6 linked regions of the Homo sapiens genome follow. The protein of the gene in region 1 purifies or fractionates together with the protein of each later gene. This does not show direct contact. Each region holds a gene or a part of one and is shown in the gene's direction. Other genes may lie near its edges. The genes, in order: DEFB107A, SUSD1, SPIN1, LEPR, ITGA4 and CACNA2D2.

Region 1 (4,054 bases):
CACTTACTTTCTTTAAGACATACAGAAATACTTATATTTTCTGCTAATTCTTGTGCCAATTTTGGTAAGTTAAATTTTTGAGAGAATTCTTTTATTTTATGTAAGTTGTGAAATGTTTTGGCATATACCTGTTGACAACATTTTTATATTAGTTTAATGTTTCTTGGATCTGTAGTGATAACTTCTTTTTCACTTATTCTGCATACTTGGGCTTACATTGTTCCCTTTTCTAAGGTTCTTAGAGCATAATTTTAAGTCATAGATTTAAACATTTCTTCTTTTCTACAATAAGTATTTGGATACAAATTTCTTTCGAAGTCATTGTTTTGTTGTGCTCCACAAAATTCGATATACAGAAATGCTTTCCAATTATTCTCATTATTTATTCTTTGATACAAACACAATCTAGAATGATGTTGCTTTATCTCCACATATTTGAAAATATCCTAAATAGCTTATTTTATAGATTGCCAATTTAATCCCCTTGTGGTGAGAAATACACTCTGAAGTATTTAAATGTGCTTAAACACATCAATATTTGTTTTATGGCCTAGCATATGGTTCATTTTTATGAATGTATCATATGTACTTGAAAAAAATGTGTATTTTGCAGTTGTCTTATGATGTGTTCTATAAATATCAATGCAGTCAGTGGAATGGTGGTATTGTTCAGATCATGCATGACTTTGCTAATTTTTCCCTGTGTTCTATCAGTTGCTGAGAGAGTGGTGTAAAAATTTTCTACTATGAATATAGAAGTGTCTATTTCTCCCTTTAATTAAATCAAATAATATAAAAACATGTTAATGGTTTTTATGTATTTTCAATGGATTAACCCTTTTCTCCTTAAGCAACAGCACTCCATGCAATACAGCGAGACCCTGTCAAAAAAAAAAAAAAAAAAAACCTGCACACGTACTCCTGAATTTAAAATTAAAGGTTTTTGTGTGTTTGTTTTAATTATTATTTTAAGAATAGGTTTTATGTAAAATCATGTACTAGGAAAAGCGTGGTGGCTATATATCTTATAGACATGGTAATACTTGAGATAAGACTTGAAGGAAAAATGAGAGAAGTCTAAGCAGAGACACAGAATAGAATATTCCAGGCAGAAAGGCAGGGTTCTCTGCGTTTGTCTCCCACAAATGTGGTTTAGTTAAAATCTGATCCATCAGCCCACACATTAATCAGTGGAGCATGGAAAATAGTATGTTCCCAATGAACATTACAAACCGAGGATGACTTCCAGTCCCTTCAGGGCAGTAGAACATATTTTAATCAATGCCCCTTGATAAAAGAGCTTGATTCCAGCTACTGCACTTCCTTCATCAGCTCTCCACTGATGCCTGGAGCCATGAAAATATTTGTCTTTATTTTGGCTGCTCTCATTCTTCTTGCTCAAATTTTCCAAGGTAAGAGGGAAATTCTTCTAGAAGTAGAGATGACAGTCTGCTCAGGATCTGTCTTTTGAGATGAAAGCTCAACTTTTACAAAGTTGAAGGTTCCAAGGCAAACCAGTCACTGAAAATCTTTTCCTGAGCTCCGACACAAAACAATGGGACCACATTGACCGGGACCATCTCCATCCATAATAGTTTCTAGTCAACTTCCCTAACAGCTCTGCCAAGGAATTCAGACATCTTTGTACTTTTAGATCTCTTTCCTCCTTTGTAATCTGCAACGCAGGTTCAGCATATTCTTTTTTTTTTTTTTTTTTTTTTTTGAGACGGAGTCTCGCGCTGTCGCCCAGGCTGGAGTGCAGTGGTGCGATCTCGGCTCACTGCAAGCTCTGCCTCCCAGGTTCATGCCATTCTCCTGCCTCAGCCTCCCGAGTAGCTGGGACTACACGCACCCGCCACCACGCCTGGGTAATTTTTTTGTATTTTTAGTAGAGACGGGGTTTCACTGTGTTAGCCAGGATGGTCTTGATGTCCTGACTTCGTGATCCGCCCTCCTCGGCCTCCCAGAGCCCTGGGATTACAGGCATGAGCCACCGCGCCTGGCCAGCATATTCTAAAGTGATTTCTTTAAAATGAAAAAAAAAAAAAAAAAGAAAGAAAAGATTATCCAAGGAAATGCCAAACATATTTGTTAAGTTAGGGAAGTACAGCCTTTGTAGTCTAAATTAAACTAAAGTTATGTTACTAGATTCTTAGACAGCTAATTTTTTTTCATGTCTGAGTCGTCGGTCCAAATCTCTTATCCATACATTATTTTAGACTTTTTGGCTTTCACACACTGGTTGGAAATTATGCCATTAAAACCACTAAACTAACATCTTGCTTACTATTCTCTTAAGTCTTTGCGTCTTTGAGATTCTCTTTGCTTCATACAACCACGACTCTGTTCCTAAGAAATGTTTATGTCCATACCTCCTCAACTATCCTTCGTTCCTTCTGTTGTGAAGCTTTTCCTATTAGAGGTTCTCCATGCATCATGAAGCCCCCTGTCTGTTCCTTCATGGCTCCTGAATTTCTACATTCCTTTATTACACATTCTGTCCTCAGTAGTCCTAGAAAACCAATAGATATTGAATGTGTGCTAACCACTTGTAAGAAATTGTTCTGTCCACTATGATAAAGGTAGGTAAAACGAAGAGGTAAAAATATAAAGCATGGACATTGACCTTAATTTGCTTGAAGTTATTAGTCTATTCCTTCTGTGTTGTTCGAAAATAGGTTGCTTGTAGTGGTAAATAAGCTTTCAATACATTTAACATGTATAAGTAAGTATCAATGAGACAGGAAAATTCACAAATAACTTTAATATGAAACAGTTTTCACAAGTGCCATAAAAGATGCAAATTATAAAGAGAAGTCATAGATGTGGAAACTTGGTTCTAACTAGGAAATGCAGAAAGGCTTCCTGGGAAGTAGTATTTGTTTTGCACATTTGGAAATAGGCAAGACTAGAACTAAAGAACAGAGCCAGGGAACAATGTCCCCATGAAAGTTTCAGTGACTCCATGAAAGTGTCAGTTGTAAAATCAGTTCCCGATTTTCTGCCCTCAGCATCTTTTTGCAGATGTCAGACAATGCTCCAGAATAGATAAACTCATTTAAAATTGTCTTCTCCATCCACTTTAATCAGTACTCCAATTTATTCAGATCAGTCTATAGATGTGGATGCCTAATAGCTCCCTGTCCACAAAACTCATCTCAGATGTATTTGAATTACAATAATAAGCATAGTTTGGGCACAAATTAGAACCACCACCATCACCATAATCACATAGAATCTCAGAGTTAGAAGTGAATTTAATGATCAATATAAAAGGTAATAAACATAGGTTATTAGGCCAAACTTATATGAGTTTGGATCTCAGTGCTAATCTTTATAAGCTGTATGCACCCTGTGTTTTACTTTCCATTCTATAAATGATAATAATAATAGCATTGTTTTGAAGATGAATAAACTTGTTATATTAATTAGAAACTAACTTGTTATAATAAAGAATCTTAATGATAGAATGACTGAAGAAAGACAAAACCTTATTTCTCTTTCATGTAAAAGTCCAAAAATAGCTAAGTTGACTAGGTGCGGGTAGAGGGTTCTTTTTCACCAAGTTATGTTGTGATTTGGGCTGAAGGTCAACCCTGCCATCCTAAACAGTTGACCATTTTATTTGGTTCCAAGGATATTCTAACAGGCAGGGTTAGAAAGTATAGAACCTGATTAAGATTACATAGAAGCAGCTCACATCATTCCACTCCTTTTTCATTTTTCCAAATTTGTTCATGTGGACATATAGAAATAGGAAGCTAGGAGCTGATGTGAATAGCTAAGTATTCATGTGTCCAGCTAAACCCAGAGGTTCTATGACTAAAAGTCTGAAGGTAAAAATGACTGCTTTGGGACAGTTTAACAATCTCTCTGTATAACTGCTTGAGCAGTGGCAGGCACATACTCTATGCTATGTTAGAGTTTACCATTGTTGGTCATTTGTTCTTCTACTTATTTTTTTGTTCTCTGCCCTGATTCAGTATTGAACACCCTATACATGTATATATATATATATGTGTGTGTGTGTGTGTGTATGTGTGTGCGTGTGTGT
Region 2 (3,500 bases), on another chromosome or scaffold:
GACTTCACACAATGAAGGAATTGCCTAATGATGCATTTCTCAAAATGTATGCAGATTGTTAAATGATGCATGACTGTAATTTGTTTAAGGTCACACAACTAGAGACAGAGCTGAACTTGAACCCAGGAATTCTAGTTTCAGAATTATTTTCAGCCACTTTGTTTTGCTGCTTCTGCTTTTATGGTGACACTGGCTTTTGGTTAGTTTTTTAAAAATTTTGGCTTTCTGTTTCTTTTTCCTTTTCCTTTTTCCTTTCTTTTCTTTTCTTTTTTCTTTTTTTTTTTGAGACAGAGTCTTGCTCTGCCACCCAGACTCGAGTGCACTGGTGCTCCTGGGCTCAAGCCATCCTCCCACCTCAGCCTCCTGAGTAACTGGACTACAGGCACGAACTACCATGCCTGGACAATTTTTGTATTTTTTTTTTTTTTGGAGACGGAGTCTCGCTCTGTCGCCCAGGCCGGACTGCGGACTGCAGTGGCGCAATCTCGGCTCACGGCAAGCTCCGCTTCCCGGGTTCACGCCATTCTCCTGCCTCAGCCTCCCCAGTAGCTGGGACTACAGGCGCCCGCCACCGCGCCCGGCTAATTTTTTGTATTTTTGGTAGAGACGGGGTTTCACCTTGTTAGCCAGGATGGTCTCGATCTCCTGACCTCATGATCCACCCGCCTCGGCCTCCCAAAGTGCTGGGATTACAGGCGTGAGCCACCGCGCCCGGCCCCAATTTTTGTATTTTTTATAGAGATGGGGTTTCGCCATGTTGCCCAGGCTGGTCTTGAACTCCTGGGTTCAAGTGATCTGCCTGTCTCTGCCTCCCACAGTGCTGGGATTCCAGGCATGAGCCACCACACTTGACCTGGTTTTCTGTTTCTCTGTCTACAAATATTATCATTTTATGTGCCTGTTTCCATCTGAAAAGTGAAAAAAAATTTTTTTAATTACCATTTTTCTAGTTTTTGGCTATATGTCCATAATCTAAAGGAAACATCAATCTATTCCCACTGTTTAGGAATTTCTTTTTTTTTTAATTGGAAATAAGTTATTTTTATCATGTCTTTTAGGCAGGTGATTATATATTTTTTTTCTTCTTTTAAATAACGATGTGGCCAGATGCAGTGGCTCATGTCTGTAATTCCAGCACTCTGGGAGGCCCAGGCAGGCAGATAGCTTGAGCCCAGGAGTTCAAGACCAGCCTGGGAGTGGTGGTGCATGCCTATAGTCCCAGCTACTTGGGAGGCTGAGGTGGGAGGACCACTTGAGCCTGTGAGGTTGAGGCTGCAGTGAGCCATGATCACACCCTGCCCTCCAGCCTGGGTGACAGAGCAAGATCCTATCTCATAAAGAAAAAATAATAATAATAATGTGTGGGTTATATTGTTAGATTTCCTGATAATGATCAGTACTAATTGCTGGAATGAATTAATCTGGGTTTTTGGTGTTTTATTCCTTTCATTTGGATTATATTTGCTAAATTTTACTTATAAATCTTGCATTGATATTCATAAGTGAAATTGCTCTATTTTCTTTTCCTGTGCCATCTTTGTTCAGTTCGGTATTAATGTTATTCTGAATTTTAAAAAAAAGAATGTAAAAATTTCCTTCTTTCTCTATTTCTGGAATACTACAAATAGAATTTTTAAAGATTTGGGAGATTTCACCTATAAAACCATCTGGATGTGGCACTATTGGAGAGGTAGCCCTTGGACTATTTGGACTACTTTTAAATTCTTCCTATACTTGCTGGTATATCTAATCATGTCCATTCTTTTTCTTTCCCTCTTAAGATCAATTTTGGTAAATTATGTATTTCTAGAAAATCATTTACTTCATCCAGATTTTCCAATTTATTTGTGCATGCAAAGAAGTGTAAAGCCTTCTAATTTGCTGTGGTTATATTTGTTTATAACTATTTATTGTAGTGAAATATTAGAAACAATCTCAAATGTCTAACAACAAGAGATTGGTTAAGTGAATCAATCCCTTAAAATGGAATATTATGTATCCAATAAAATTATGTTAGAAAAACAATATTTAAAAAAGAATATTTATTGCAGGCCAGGCACAGTGGCTCACACCTGTAATCTCAGCACTTTGGGAGGCCAAGGCAGGCTGATCACGAGGTCAGGAGTTCGAGACCAGCCTAGCCAGCATGGTGAAACCCTATCTCTACTAAAAATACAACAAATTACCTGGGCGTGGTGGCGTGCACCTGTAATCCCAGCTACTCAGGAGTCTGAGGCAGGAGAATTGGGAGGTGGAGGTTGCTGTGAGCTGAGATTGTGCCACTGCACTCCAACCTGGGTGACACAGCAAGACTCCGTCTCAAAAAAAAAAAAAGAATATTTATTGACATAGATAAGTACTAATAGTATGTTTCAGAGTTACAAATTCTATGAATAATAATCTTAATTTTGAAAAAGTTCCTATATACAGATAAGCTTAGAAAAATGTTTAGAATGCCATACATCAAAATGTTAATGGTGATAGTTTCCAATGGGAGGGTTTGGGATCCTGGACTTCATATATATATATATGTATATACACATATATATATATATATATACACATTTTTTTTTTGAGATGGAGTCTCACTGTGTTGCCCAGGCTGGAGTGCAGTGGCACAATCTAGCTCACTGCAACCTCTGCCTCCTGGGTTCAAGCCATTCTCCCTGCATCAGCCTCCCACGTAGCTGGGATTACAGGTGTCTGCCACCATGCCCAGCTAATTTTTTGTATTTTTAGTAGAGATGGGGTTTCGCCATGTTGGCCAGGCTGGTCTCAAACTCCTGACCTCAGGTGATCCGCCCACCTTGGCCTCCCAAAGTTCTGGGATTACAGGCATGAGCCACCGCACCCAGCCAATTTTTATATTTTATATACTTTCTGTATTGAAAGAAATTTTTTTAATGGAATGCTTAATGCATTTGCATGTCATACTTGCACAGGGATCATGCTAGTCTCTGTATCGTTCCAATTTTAGTATACATGCTGCCAAAGTGAGCATGATGGAATTTTTCACATATCAGACAAAGAAACCTGTTTTCATTTTGGAGAAAAGAGAAACCCTCACAATTTTCATTGAATTTATTGCATAATTAAGAAACCCCAGTGATGTGCATGGCTAAGTTAATCATTTTGATATTCTGACTTGCTGTGTAGGCTCTACACGCATTTTGATCATTAATTATCATCCTCAGGGGTTAAGAATTTCTAAAGATAACATTTTAGTTCTAAGATGATCTTTCAATGGATCAACTAAAATGCAGAACTTAGATTAAAATGTGCCATAGTGCCTATCAAAGAACGCTCTAAGGATTTACATAGGAAACCCCATATAAAACCATTTAGATTGCCTTGAAAATTAGCCATCATCTGGATTATTAGACTGAGAATGTAGAAAATTAATTTAGAGGAGAGTGCTTGCTGCATTTTCCCAAAGAACTGTTATTTAAAAGATCTTCGCTTCTTTTTTCCTTCTCTAATAACTGCTCCCTCTGCCCGCT
Region 3 (3,500 bases), on another chromosome or scaffold:
GGACTACAGGTGCCCGCCACCACGCCCGGCTAATTTTTGTATTTTTAGTAGAGACGGGGTTTCACTATGTTAGCCAAGATGGTCTCGATCTCCTGACCTCGTGATCTGTCCGCCTCGGCCTGCCAAAGTGCTGGGATTACAGGCGTGAGCCACCGCGCCTGGCCTATTTAATGTATTTTTTAACATGTAGAACATTTATGTGAACATTTATGTAGTTAAAAAATCTGATCTGTGTTAAAAAGTTATGTTCACAGCTTCACTTTAATTCTGTTCCTCCACGAATTTCTCTCTTGCCCCAGTTGTTTTTGCTTTGTTTTTCTGATATTTCATTTTTGCAAATGTAAGCATATGTGTATATTTTTGTTTCCCTTTCCTACACAATAGGCAGCGTTCTATGCACACTGCTCTGCCGTTCTATGCACACTGCTCCCTTTTACTTAATTTATTCTGGAGAGCGCTTCATTGAAGTGCGTGCTTGCAACTCATCTCCTAATGATGAACATTTGGGTTGTTTATATTCTCTTGGCTGTTATAAATATTGCGGCAATGAATAACCTTGTGGGTATATTGTTTTTTATTTGTGCAGATACAGCTTTAAGATAGATGTGGGGTGAAAGGTAAACACATTTGTAGTTTTGTTAGTGTCAAAATGTTACATTTTCTTTTTAAAACTTTTTAATTTTTTGTAGAGATGAGGTCTCACAGTGTTGCCCAGGATGATCTTGAACTCCTGACCCCAAGCAGTTCTTTTACCTGGGCTTCCCAAAAAACTTGGGATTACAGGCGTCAGGCATCAATACAGCCTAAAAAAATTACATTTTCAGGCTCAGTGTGATGGCTCACACCTGTAATCCCAGCACTTTGGGAGGCTGAGGTGGGCCGATCATGAGGTCAGGAGTTCAAGAACAGCCTGACCAACGTGGTGAAACCCCATCTCTGCTAAAAATACAAAAATTAGCCTGGCGTGGTGGCGCGTGCCTGTAATCCCAGCTACTCGGGAGGCTGAGGCAAGAGAATCACTTGAACCTGGGAGGCAGAGACTGCAGTGAGCTGAGATTGCGCCACTGCACTCCAGCCTGGGTGACAGAGGGAGACTCCGTCTCAAAAACAACAGCAACAACAACAAAAAAACCCGTCTCTACTAAGAATACAAAAATTGGCCAGGCATGGTGGCCTGCGCCTGTAATCCCAGCTACTCCTCATGAGAGTCACTTGAACTTGGGAGGTGGAGGTTGCAGTGAGCTGAGATCGCGCCATTGCACTTCAGCCTGGGTGACAGAGTGAGACTCCATCTCAAAAAAAAAAAAATTACATTTTTAAAAGGCAGATCTGACCATGTCAGCTTTTTACTTAAAACTCTAAATGGTGGCCAGGTGGGTGCGGTGGCTCACACCTGTACTGTACTCCCAGCACTTTGGGAGGCTGAGGTGGGCGGATTACCTGAAGCTGGGAGTTTGAGGCCAGCCTGGCCAACATGGTGAAACCCCGTCTCTACTAAAAATACAAAAATTAGCCAGGTGTGGTGGCGCATGCCTGTAATCCCAGCTACTCAGGAGGCTGAGGCAGGAGAATTGCTTGAACCTGGGAGGCGGAGGCTGCAGTGAGCTGAGATCACACCCCTGCACTCCAGACTGGGCAACAGAGTGAGACTCCGTCTCAGAAAACAAAACAGAAAAACTCTAAATGGCTTTCCAGTGCCTTAAGGACAAAAGTTTATAATGTAGCCTCAAGGGTACACATATAGTTGGTGTACATATAGCTTTACATCCCTTAACAATGGGATACATTCAGAGAACCTCGTTGTGTACCTCATAGAGTATACTTACACAAACCTATATGGGACAACCTACTAGGCACCTAGGCTATGTAATATGGCTTAATGCTCCTAGGCTACAAACCTGTACAGCATATGACTGAACTGAATACTGTAGACTATTGGAACACAGTGCTGTGTAGGTATTTATTTATCTAAACATATCTAAGGACAGAGAAAGTACAGTAGAAATGTGGTATAAAAGAGAAATGGCATGCCTGTGTAGGGCACTGAACCATGAATGGAGCTGTCAGGACTGGAAGTTGCTCTGGGTTGAGTCTGTGAGTGAGTGGTGAGTGAATGTGAAGGCCTAGAACATTACTGTACACTACCGTAGACTGTATGTAAACACTACAGTTAGGCTACACTAAATTTATAAAAAGTTTCTTCAGTAATTTACCTTAGCTTACTGTAATTTTTTTAACTTAATAAGCTTTTTAACTTTTTTTTAAACTTTCTGTCTTTTTAAATAACACGTAGCTTAAAACAGCCTCATAATATGGATCCACTGTAGTATATGTGGTCTGTTGTGTTGACAGAAATGTCATTAGGTGGTGCATGACTAATTACTTTTGGGCCTCAGCCTCATCTTGTACTGTTTTTCCCCTTGCTTTCCTTTGCTCCAGTTGTGTGGGGCCTCCTTCATTCTCCTGTGCTCACCATATTCTCCACCAGGAATCTTGGCACTTGTTCTTTTCCTCTGCCTGGAATGCCTTTCTTTGTTAACAGTTATTCCTGGTCTTTAGAGTTTGGCTCAAGCATCACTTTTAATGAAATTTTCTGTGTGCGTGCTTGCACATTTTCATAAGATAAAGAGATTGGACTGTACTGATATTCATCACCGACTCCAACAAGCATCAGTTGTCTGAAGTGTTTTTTTTTTTTTCCCCAGTCTTGCTCTGTCTCCCAGGCTGGAGTGCAGTGGTGCGGTCTCAGCTCACTGCAGTCTCCACTTCCCAGGTTCTAGCAATTCTCACTCCTCAGTCTCCCAAGTAGCTGGGAGTACAGGTGCGTGCCACCATGCCTGGCTAATTTTTTTGTATTTTTAGTAGAGACAGGGTTTCACCTTGTTGGCCAGACTGGTCGCCATCTCCTGACCTCAAGTGATCTGCCCTCCTCTGCCTCCCAAAGTGCTGAGATTACAGGTGTGAGCCACCGTGCCCAGCCTGAAGTTGTTTTTTTGAGACGAGGTCTCACTCCAGTTGCCTAGGCTGTAGTGCAGTGGCACAGTTTTGGCTCATTGCAGCCTCGACCTTCCCGGACTCAGGTGATCTTCCCATCTCAGCCTCCCGCGTAGCTGAGACTACAGGCATGTGCCACCATGCCTGGCTAGTTTATTTTTGTATTTTTAGTAGAGACGGGATTTTGCCTTGTTGCCCAGGCTGGTCTCGAGCTCCTGAACTCAAGCAGTGTACCTGCCTCAGCCTCCCAAAGTGCTGCCTCAGCCTCCCACCTGTGCCACTGCACTACAGGCATGAGTCACCGTGCCTGGCTGTCTGAAGTTCTTGAATTTTTTTGACTTTTCTGCAGTCAAGTCCTCTTGGTGCTTATCAGAATTACAATGTTATATTAGTTTATGTGATTTAATTAATTTTAGTTTTCCCACAAAGGCTGAGTTTCATGAAAGCAGAACCATTCCTGTTTTTGCCTGTAATTACTTTTCTGGTATCTAGCTCAGTGTCTGAAT
Region 4 (3,500 bases), on another chromosome or scaffold:
GATTGTCTCAGCTACATCCCTGCTAGTAGACAGTATACTTCCTGGGTCTTCGTATGAGGTTCAGGTGAGGGGCAAGAGACTGGATGGCCCAGGAATCTGGAGTGACTGGAGTACTCCTCGTGTCTTTACCACACAAGGTAGGTTATGTAATAGCCACTTCTACTGGGAGGGAAATATATTTCCTGAACTTGCCTTTGTATAGTATAAGCATCTTACATTTTGAGGCCTTAAAATGAAAGGAGGAACACAGTATCAACTTCCTTGTTTAAACTTTGAACAGGCCAATTTGTGAATTAAAATTCTGTCAGAGCCTCTAGGCTTGTGTGTTTCTATTGCAGTATATTGTAGGATCACTTTTCCTATTAAAAAGAAAAAATTAATATAACAGCTCCAAATTAACAAACTCAGAAAGCCATTTGTATTGATAATTCCTTAATTTACATTTTAAAACCAAGCATATTTATTTGACATAAAATTCAAATATTAACATTTTACTTTATATTATATAATAAATGAATTATTTTTACTCCAGATGCTTGCTTTTGAGAGTTTTCAGTGCCAATGTTCATATTTTAAAGGTTATTTTTAGCATCGGAACATCTACAGTTCATTCACAGCTTCTTCATGCAGCTGATGCGCAAAGTTTTGCATAGAGGCTCCAGAGGCTTGGAATGGTCCTAGACCTGTTGCATGCAAAGTTGGGACTATAGAAAGACAATAGTCCTTTGGCTGGTTGTCCGATCTGTCAAAAGGGCAAAATTTTTCTTGTTCAGACTTACTGAGATTGATTATGGCCTGTACAGAGATAACAGGTACCATGCAAATATCAATCCATTTAACAAGTTTACTTGTTGATTGCTTACTATTTTAAAAGCATTGATTCGTCAAAAGGCAAGTAGCAATAGTAGTTTAAGACATTGACTTCGGAGTCCAACAGAAGTTTATAGGAGTTCTGGCTCCACCACTTATTTGGAAAGTTTCTTAACCTTTCTATGCCTTAATTTCCTTATCTGTAAAATAGGGATGTTTTACATGGATATGAAATATCCATATAAAATTAAATAATGAAATGAAATAATTAACATTGGTCATGTGAAGAAAACCATTATTGTTTTCTTATTCTGCAAATTAAAAATTGCATAGTATGTCATATGCAGATAAAATGTGTATCTATATTATTAAAATTTTGCAAATTAAATATTCAATATCTCATATCAATTTCAATAAATTTATCCAGTGTAAATTTCACAAATTGTCAGGTTTTTATTAACTTAGTTTTCTTATTTTAAGCTAATATTTTAGCATCTAATCATGTAAAAATACTATGACTTTAATCTTATTTCTCAGTTAAGCCTTACTATATGTATTTGATTTCAAAGTGAAATGCTTTGAATTTTCTTGTCATCTTTAAAATGAAAAACTTCAGCTTAATCCATGAAAACTCAATTATATTTTTTATTTTTAAATAAGAATTATTCTGAGACTTTTGAGGCAGTTGAGTAAGGAGGTTGTGGCGCATACTGAAGGTAGGTTAAGATAGGTTAATGTACTAGGTACTTGTCCACAGTAAGTAATGTACAAGTGAAGCTTGAGTGCCACCTCGGCTAGGATTATACTCAGTCACGCTCATAAATCTAATGGTCTGGCTCCTGTGCAGTAATTTTATGCTACTAAGTTTTTTCCTGTTTCTATTTGATTATGGACATACAAAACACAAATGTTTTGTATGAATTGTAAATATATAGACATTGACGTTTACCATGCTATTACAGAATAAAGAAAACTTAATAAAAACCAATTAAAGTATTTTTGTTTCTGTTTTTAAGGGTAATCCCAAGATATGTGTGAAAACAAATTTTCATAGTCTATCAACAGAAAATGGTTTACCTTAACTTTACAACTGAAATGTACTGACGTTTTTGCAGTGCACTGTGGTGGAAATAATTTCTTCCTATGTAAACCATCATTTACTTGTATCTCGCATGTCTTTGAAAATGATAGGCAAATGAAATTTACAACAACAGAGGACTTTAAAAATAGTATAGAATCATGTGTAGGCATTAAAAAAATCATGTTTTAGGAAAATATCGCTTCCCTTTACCCTCATCCATAGGATATTGGCATTAAATAACTCAAAATGATAGTACAAACCAGTATTTCCCATTTTCTCTGCTTTGTATATTGCTGCATTATCATTCATACGACATTCCTATTTTTTAATTTATATCTCGTATCTTTACCTACTTACTTGAAATTTTTATGTATCCAAACAAGACAATAGCGGCAATCATTTTTACTTCAGGATTTGGCTTCATAGTGATTTGCTTTAAGAACTTGTCCTAGTTTCACTGATTCCCAAAGCAGGGTCTGTTGGAAAATATGTCATTGTTGAATTAAGCTATATTTTGTTTTAGTCACTTTCCTGCCTATCAGTTAGCAAGTGACAATTACTGGCTAAAACATATTTTATGATGAATAAGCCTCTGTGTTTAGAAGATAGTAAAGACATTCATGGAAGCTCAACTCACTTTAGAATGAGAGCACTCGGGACACTAGATAACTGTACACAAACAGGTAATTTCAGCATTATCCAGTTTTTAAATTACACTCATTTTATTTTTGGCAGTGTAACTCTGGAATGTGTTGTGAATATTTTTCGATGTGGTACAAATTACTTACAGAATGTTTTGTCTTCATCTGATATCCTTTCTTCCCTCATTACAGATGTCATATACTTTCCACCTAAAATTCTGACAAGTGTTGGGTCTAATGTTTCTTTTCACTGCATCTATAAGAAGGAAAACAAGATTGTTCCCTCAAAAGAGATTGTTTGGTGGATGAATTTAGCTGAGAAAATTCCTCAAAGCCAGTATGATGTTGTGAGTGATCATGTTAGCAAAGTTACTTTTTTCAATCTGAATGAAACCAAACCTCGAGGAAAGTTTACCTATGATGCAGTGTACTGCTGCAATGAACATGAATGCCATCATCGCTATGCTGAATTATATGTGATTGGTAAGAAAACAGAGGTTTTGTTCATTTTGTTCCACAACTTGAATTTTCATTATGGACCCTCCTTATATTAGAGTCCTGTTAAAGATGTAAGAAAAAATTTTTTTCATTGAATTTTTTGGAGTTTTTGCTTTATATTAATATTTTAATATGTTTCAAATAGATGTCAATATCAATATCTCATGTGAAACTGATGGGTACTTAACTAAAATGACTTGCAGATGGTCAACCAGTACAATCCAGTCACTTGCGGAAAGCACTTTGCAATTGAGGTATCATAGGTACGTATTATTTTTGCTGTTTTGTTTTTCTGTGGGCACAGTGAGATAAAAATTTTCTTTAGAAATATTACAACAGTAGTCTTACAGATTATTTGCTTCCTGAAAGAGGAAAGTATAATATAATGAATCAGGAAATTTTTGAGGGATTATATAAATTGGTGATTCTTGAAAAATATTCACACCTGAGATTAAAAAATTGTAATTTGT
Region 5 (3,500 bases), on another chromosome or scaffold:
GAGTCATATTCCAATAAATGTAAACATAGGGCAGTTTCTTATAAACGCAAGGCATTATTGGTATGCTAATTGTATGTTCCACTTTCTGCATGCTTAATCATCACCTTCCAGCTCCAATAAATTGTACCTTAATTGCTGAGGATGTATTATAGTCTTTCTATTCTTAATATCTCAGTAGAAGAAACATTTTTAAAAGTGCTCTGATAATATTGCTTACGTTGTTAGATAAATGGCTAATTCTTTTCCAAACGTTAGACACAGCAGTTATAGTTGCACAACCTGGTATTAGCTTTAAGTGGTTTTCCCCACTCCTAGTCCTGTTAGCTATCTCTTATATGATTGAGTCTATCTTTTTATGGTGCTACCAGTCAGAGGTCATTTCTACAACCAAAGTCACCTTGTATTAGAGAATAATTAGTTGGCACAGAGTAATTCACATTTATCCTCACATTGTGCACTGAATATAAGATAGAGAAGTAGTTAACAGAAAAATACTGGGGATGAGTGCACAGTTTTCTCTTCTTTTGTAGAATGTTTTCAATACAACTGATAAAATTATTTTCACATGCTATAGGTAGCCCTAATGGAGAACCTTGTGGAAAGACTTGTTTGGAAGAGAGAGACAATCAGTGGTTGGGGGTCACACTTTCCAGACAGCCAGGAGAAAATGGATCCATCGTGGTAGGTATTGGAACTGGTCCACAGATCCATCGTGAAATCAGCTATCCTGGGTGCAGCTTTCACATCATTTGGTCTACTTTTATTTTATTCAGACTTGTGGGCATAGATGGAAAAATATATTTTACATAAAGAATGAAAATAAGCTCCCCACTGGTGGTTGCTATGGAGTGCCCCCTGATTTACGAACAGAACTGAGTAAAAGAATAGCTCCGTGTTATCAAGGTAAGGCATGATTTTGATACGAATTAGATAAAGATAAGTAAGTGAATACCTTTTAGTGTTTTAAATTTATGTTCAAGTTTAGATGTTCAGAGGAGAGGGAGATCTTCTAAGTAATTATGTTCTTTTTAACTACTCAATTTCTTTCTTTACCCAATTGCAATAGCATTATTTTTCATAAATGCACTTTGTGCTATAAAAATTCTACAATTTGAATAACTCTGAAATCTAGCTCTTTAACTACCCACTTTTGCATCAAATTTACTTTCAATTTGGTATAGGTGAGACTAGTACCCAGCAAATATAGGACATTTAAATTGTGAAATTATATTGGAAGTCTGATTAAAAAGAAAGACTTTAGGTTTCCTTTTTTACCTTTAGCTTCCAGGAGTAATTGGGAAGAATAATCAGTGTAAGCAAATCTTTCATTCGCACTCACTATCTCTTTTTCTAATTTACATGTTTTCCTTCAAGCAGCAAGAGATTCGTGTCTTGAGTTTGAAACATTTTTCTCATGGTAACTCTATGCTATAGGTAGCATCAGCAAGTACAGAGCTAGGACATAACAGAAGTGAGCAGAATTGGGGTGAATGTCAACAGAGCATGTCAGAGGATATCTGCAGCAAAACTAAAATCCAACAATGCGTCTTTAGGAGCTAAGAAACATATGAATGCAAATTCATAATTTTCTAACCACCCTCACTCAAAAAAAATCCCTCAGCACGCAAAGAAAAATTTTATTGGTTGGCAAAACTTTGGCCAAGTATTTGAGTTCAATTATGGGTGCTAATAAGACTTTGGTCTTTCTTCCTTGGAATGTGATGTCACAGAGCAGCTTATATTACATATATTCCTATTTTGCCTTCGGATACCCAAAAGATAAAAAAGTGAATATTGATTCTCAGTTGCAATAAAACTCAGTCTTGATTTCTGTATGTTTGCTGTCTTCTTTTTCCTAATAGTTTTCGGTTTATCTTTAAAATATTTTCATAGTAGAGTTTTTAGTTTTTCTCGGATATACATAGCCACATACTACAAAAATCTCAAGATGCCATAAACCTAACCCATCTACAATTGTAAAATACAGGATCAGGTAAGATATATTTTTTTAAAGGGATGAAAACTCCTGACCAGAAATGGTCATTATAAATGACTTACCAATTTATTGAAGTTTTCTGCTTAGCAAAGCCAAAAGGAAGCTGTGGTTCCAATTCTTATTTTCATAGAAGTTTACTTATATCATTTTTTGGAAGAAGCAAAGCTTTGCCCCCTTAGAAAGTTCCAAAAGCATTCATTCATGGGACTTTGTAATAATAGACCTTTATGTCCATGCAGATCTTGATTCAGTCTATATTTCAGTTGGGCAAAATCTAAGAAAGGACACTCTCTTCAATTAATGGTGTTAGCAATAGCAAAGACATGGAATCAACCTAAATGCACATCAATGTTGGATTGGATAAAGAAACTGTGATACATACACACTGTAGAATACTACACAGGCATAAAAAATAACGAGATTATGTCCTTTGCAGCAACTTATATGGAGCTGGAGGCCAATAACCTAAGCGAACTAACACAGGAACAGAAAACCAAATACCACATGTTCTCACTTATAAGTGGGAGCTAAACATTGAGTACATATGGACACAAGGGACACAAAGTAGGCACAAACACTAGGGCCTACCTGGTGGTAGACGGTGGGAGCAGAGAGAGGATTGAAAAACTACCTATCAGGTACTATGCCTATTACCTGCATGGGGAAATAATCTGTACATCAAACCCCTACAACACGCAATTTATCTATGCAACAAACTTGCACATGAACCCTGAACCTGAAAGTTTTTTTTTAAATGCCTTTGGGAAAATTGGCTATCTGCGTGCAAAAGAATGAAATTGAACGCTTATCTTAGCAAATATACCAAAGTCAACTAAAATGGATTAAAGACTTAAACACGATACCTGAAACCATAAAATTTCTAGTGGAAAACATAAGAGAAAAGCTACTTGACATTAGTCTAGGCAATGAGTTTTTGGAAATTACACCAAAAGCTCAAACAACAAAAGCAAAAATAAACAAATGAGACTATATTAGAAAGCTCCTGCATAGCAAGGGAGATAATCAACAGAGTGAAGAGACAGTCTGCAGAATGGGAAATAATATTCGCATAAGTCCTATATATTTAAAATGTATAAGGATCTCACCAACTCGATAGCAAAAAACCAAATAACTGATTAAAAATTAGTCAAGAGACCAAATGGCTTTCTTTCCAAAGAAGGCATCAAAATGGCCAATAAGTAGATGAAAAGGTGCTTAACATCACCAATCATCAAGGAAATGCAAATTACAAACCACTATGAAATATCACTTCACACCTATTAGAATTGTCATTATCAAAAAGGCAAGAGATAACAAGTGTTGGCGAAGGTGTGAAGAAAAGGGAACCCTTGCACACTGTTGGCTGGAATGTAAATTGGTACAGCCATTATAGAAAACAGTAGAGAAGTTACTCAAATTAAAAATAAAACTACCATATGGTCCAGCAATCCCTCTTCTGGGTATATATCCAAAGGAAATGAAATCAGTACCACATAAAGAGATC
Region 6 (3,500 bases), on another chromosome or scaffold:
ACCTGAGTCCGAGCACACCTTTCACCTGCCTCCTTTTTCCAGTTATGCCCTCCCCAGCATCAGGCCACCACCGCCGGCTGAGGGGCAGCCCTCACTGCTTTGCCTCCCCTTGTGTCTTTCCCTCCCTCTTCCCCTGTCCCCCTTCTTCAGGTCTTTCATCGAGCTGTACCTATCCTTCCCTGCCCGCCTCTTTTGTCCTCTCTGCTGGGCCTCTGTGCCCTGTTCTCCAGTGCCCCCAGGTTTCTCTGTCCCCTCCTCTGTGGAGTCCTGGCTGAGTGCTGGGTGGAGCACCCGGCTGAGCTGGCCCACCTGACTGCACCCTCTTAGCCCAGCTCTGCTCCAGCGATGGTGTTGGCCAGCGTCTCCCTTCCTCTGAGGGTGGGCAGAAGCAGTGAGGGGCCTGAGGGGTTTGGACCACCAGCAGATTAATGACAACCAGAGTACGTGCTCCTCTCCTGAGTGGACACATGGGGAGCAGTGCCTACAACAGGGCATGCGTCAGTGTAGCTACGGTTAATGGTGGGTGACGTGTGTCTGTCTGGGCCTTCCAGCCCCTGTCTCCATCTCCCTGTGGCTCTCCCTGTTGGAGGGAGGCAGCATCACTCATCTGGGTCCCCCATCTTCCCAAAAACCTGCCTCAGCTTTTGCAGGAGGGAGGGATGAGGCTTCCCAGCCGCTGCTGCTGTCACCGAGATGCAGAGCTGCCAGGTGCTCACAGCCCTCCTGGTGTGGAGGACTTTGGGGGGACCCTTGGCTGCTGTTCCCCTGGACTCCATCTTTATCAGGCACCTCCTTTTGGTCAGCTGTGCCAGGTTAACCCCTGAGAAAGGAGGAAACTCATTTTAGGATGAGTCCCCTCGTAGTCTGCAGGTGAATCTCACTCCAGATTCTTTGTCACACTCATGTCCCCATGGAGAGACTGACTCCAGAGTAAAGCTGGCCTCTAAGTGGACTTCTGCAGAAAGTATCCCCTTCTCCTCCTGCCTGTGTGCAGGTGGGCACTGCCAGCTCCTGGCATCTCAGATGTGTATGGGTGGACACTGCCAGCTCCTGGGAGGATGTAGTTTGGGGACATGCTGGGTGTCAGGTGTAGACTTTGCAGGCTCCATTGGGATGACCTTGCCTTAGTTTCCACAATTGAAATGATAGAATCTGCTTAAGAGGCTGGTGGTGAGAATTAACGGGAGAGGATGCCGCCTCTAGTGGGCAGGGAGGGCTCCGTCAGGTGCCATGGCTGCCACTGTTAACATTAGCATTAAGCCCAGATGTTGCAGCCGGGCGGTAGCCAGTCTTACTGCGAGACCCACCAGTCTCCAGGGCTCCCACGGGCTAGGTGGCCGCCTGTCTCTCTACTTTGCTCATGCTGCCCTGCCATGACTGTGCTCTTTTCTCAGGTTTAGATCCCCTCCTTCAAGGTCTCACACCCGAACCTTCCAGAGGCCTTCCCATCCCAGCTCTGGGCTGTGCCACTCTCTCAGGCTGTGCCCACCCACATCAGATTCTACCTCCTTGAGGAAGACATTGGGCCACCTCCCTCCCTCACTCCCTGCAACACAGCTTGACTGTGGTGGGGGACGTCTCCAGGCTAATGGTGATCTCCCTTACTGAGCCCAGGCCAGACCCCTCACCCACATTAGTGCCTTGACCTCAGAGCCCGTGGTCATGTCCATCCTCCAGATGGGGAGACTGACCTCAGAAAAATGAAGGGACCTGCTTAAAGCCCACAACCATGAGAGGCAGGGCAGGGGAAAGGATAGATCTGTCAGACACTTGGCTGCCCAGCCAGAGGGCTGGGGACATCTGGGCAGTGGGCCCAGGAAGTGGAGGGGGGCTTGAAGCCTGAATCTCTGGGAAGAAAATGAAGAGGCCTAGGATATGAGAGCTGGGCCTGGGACTTCCAGCTGTAACTTTGCCCTGTCTGTCTCTCTTTCCTCCTCTGGGTCTCAGGCAACCCTGAGGGGCCTTCCTTGGCATGAAGCTGCCTTGCCAGCCCCAGTGCTTATAGCCCCAGTGCTGACCTCCATCTACCTCCCACGTATACACAGGCCATCATGGAGCACCCCCAGCCCAGAGCTTTCCTTCCCCCAGCTTTGAGTTATGGGCCAGGCCTGCTCTGTGTGGAGGGGTGGAGGAGAGGAGGGGCTTCATCTGGAGATGAGATGCCATTTCCTTCTCCAGATTCCAGTCTGATTCCGGAGAGAAAGGTCATGGAGGTGGGGGTGGGGCTGGGGGTTGTTCATGGAAACCTGAGGCTGGCTCCTTTAGTCCCTTGGCAGTTTTGCCAGGTCTGAGGGGACTTCACAGGGCTAGGATCTTATAGATGCTGGGGGAGCCTCATGCCATCCGGATGGGTGGGACTTGGGGGGTTTGGGAACCAGCGTTCAAGGGCTTGTTGCTAGGGAACTCTCCAAGGGGCAGCTGGAGGTTTGGGAGTCAAGGCAGGTGGGCTGAGCTCTGTCTGGCAGGGCGATGTTGCCTGTAAGATAGGAGTGGTCTTTCTCTCTCTTCCCCCTTCCAGCCACCTACCCCACTCCCGTGCGGAGATTTGCCTCCAGACCTGGTGCCTTGTGTCTTTAAGTGACTGGGCTGTGGGCCTCAGGCCTGGGGAGGACATGCTGGGGAGGACATGAGGGGCTTTCCCATTGCTGGCTACAGCCCTCCAGCCAACTGGGAAGATTCTCTTCATGTCAGGTTTTTTTTTCTTTTCTTCTTCTTCTGGTGCCTACTGTCTAAACAAGAAGCTACAGAATCAATATTCGTATTCCCCAAGGGAAGTGTGTGTGTGGTTTTTGCTTTTTTTTGCTTCCCTTCTTCTCTTGTCCTGTGGAACCTGAAGAGCTTCCAGAGCTGCCTGTGGCTAAGGGCAGAAGGGGGGCCAGTGCAGGTGACCACAGAGATTGAGATGGCCCTGCTGGCTTGCAGGTCCCCACAGGGGTCTCTTGGGGCCTCCCTAAAGGAGTCAAGATTCTGTCATTCAAATCTACATAAGGTCAGGACCTAAGGGGCAGACTCAGCCAAGCCCTGCCCTGCCACTGTGAGACTCAGGCTGTTGGCTTGGTGTCCCCGGTCCTGGTCCCGCTCCTCTCACCTGGGCCCTCACAGTGCTTTTCCTTCTGCATCTGGTCTGGACCTGCTGGGTCCCCAGCCATCACTGTTACCCGTGACTGAGCCTGGTGAGGGGAGAGCCTCACAAACCAGGAGACTGTCTAGCTGGGATTAGGTGGGGAGAATATTCACAAAGGAGTTCTGAAAGCCCCCATCTTAGGTGAGGAGGCCTCTGTCAAGGGCAAGCCCAGCCTAATCTTCTCAGTTGGGTAGCTTGCTTGGTGACCTTGGACAAAACCCCTCCTCCCCCTGGGCCTCAGTTTCCTTTCTTCCAGGATCCTTCCAACTCTGACATTCCAATGCCCTAAGAAGACAGATCTGGGGTCTTCCTGCTCCTCTCCACGCCCTGCTTTAGCTGTGGCCGCTGGGCCTTGTCTCTTCCAGTGTGAGGGTGC

What was found.
Region 2: the proteins of DEFB107A (region 1) and SUSD1 purify together in Homo sapiens (affinity purification with mass spectrometry, with the first as the bait; one large-scale study listed by BioGRID). This does not show direct contact.
Region 3: the proteins of DEFB107A (region 1) and SPIN1 purify together in Homo sapiens (affinity purification with mass spectrometry, with the first as the bait; one large-scale study listed by BioGRID). This does not show direct contact.
Region 4: the proteins of DEFB107A (region 1) and LEPR purify together in Homo sapiens (affinity purification with mass spectrometry, with the first as the bait; one large-scale study listed by BioGRID). This does not show direct contact.
Region 5: the proteins of DEFB107A (region 1) and ITGA4 purify together in Homo sapiens (affinity purification with mass spectrometry, with the first as the bait; one large-scale study listed by BioGRID). This does not show direct contact.
Region 6: the proteins of DEFB107A (region 1) and CACNA2D2 purify together in Homo sapiens (affinity purification with mass spectrometry, with the first as the bait; one large-scale study listed by BioGRID). This does not show direct contact.

The regions. Positions count from the first base shown.
Region 1 is NC_000008.11:7,812,917-7,816,970, reverse strand, and holds the start of DEFB107A (beta-defensin 107 precursor), read left to right. Parts: upstream 1-1,254; 5' UTR 1,255-1,342; coding exon 1,343-1,412; intron 1,413-4,054. UniProt on the Homo sapiens protein: Has antibacterial activity.
Region 2 is NC_000009.12:112,137,298-112,140,797, reverse strand, and holds part of SUSD1 (sushi domain-containing protein 1 isoform 2 precursor), read left to right. Parts: intron 1-3,500.
Region 3 is NC_000009.12:88,394,944-88,398,443, forward strand, and holds part of SPIN1 (spindlin-1), read left to right. Parts: intron 1-3,500. UniProt on the Homo sapiens protein: Chromatin reader that specifically recognizes and binds histone H3 both trimethylated at 'Lys-4' and 'Lys-9' (H3K4me3K9me3) and is involved in piRNA-mediated retrotransposon silencing during spermatogenesis.
Region 4 is NC_000001.11:65,598,668-65,602,167, forward strand, and holds part of LEPR (leptin receptor isoform 1 precursor), read left to right. Parts: coding exon 1-137; intron 138-2,724; coding exon 2,725-3,015; intron 3,016-3,175; coding exon 3,176-3,293; intron 3,294-3,500. UniProt on the Homo sapiens protein: Receptor for hormone LEP/leptin. On ligand binding, mediates LEP central and peripheral effects through the activation of different signaling pathways such as JAK2/STAT3 and MAPK cascade/FOS.
Region 5 is NC_000002.12:181,474,386-181,477,885, forward strand, and holds part of ITGA4 (integrin alpha-4 isoform 1 preproprotein), read left to right. Parts: intron 1-574; coding exon 575-681; intron 682-773; coding exon 774-903; intron 904-1,434; coding exon of another isoform or gene 1,435-1,466; exon of another isoform or gene 1,467-1,835; intron 1,836-3,500. UniProt on the Homo sapiens protein: Integrins alpha-4/beta-1 (VLA-4) and alpha-4/beta-7 are receptors for fibronectin. They recognize one or more domains within the alternatively spliced CS-1 and CS-5 regions of fibronectin. They are also receptors for VCAM1.
Region 6 is NC_000003.12:50,497,135-50,500,634, reverse strand, and holds part of CACNA2D2 (voltage-dependent calcium channel subunit alpha-2/delta-2 isoform b precursor), read left to right. Parts: intron 1-3,500. UniProt on the Homo sapiens protein: The alpha-2/delta subunit of voltage-dependent calcium channels regulates calcium current density and activation/inactivation kinetics of the calcium channel.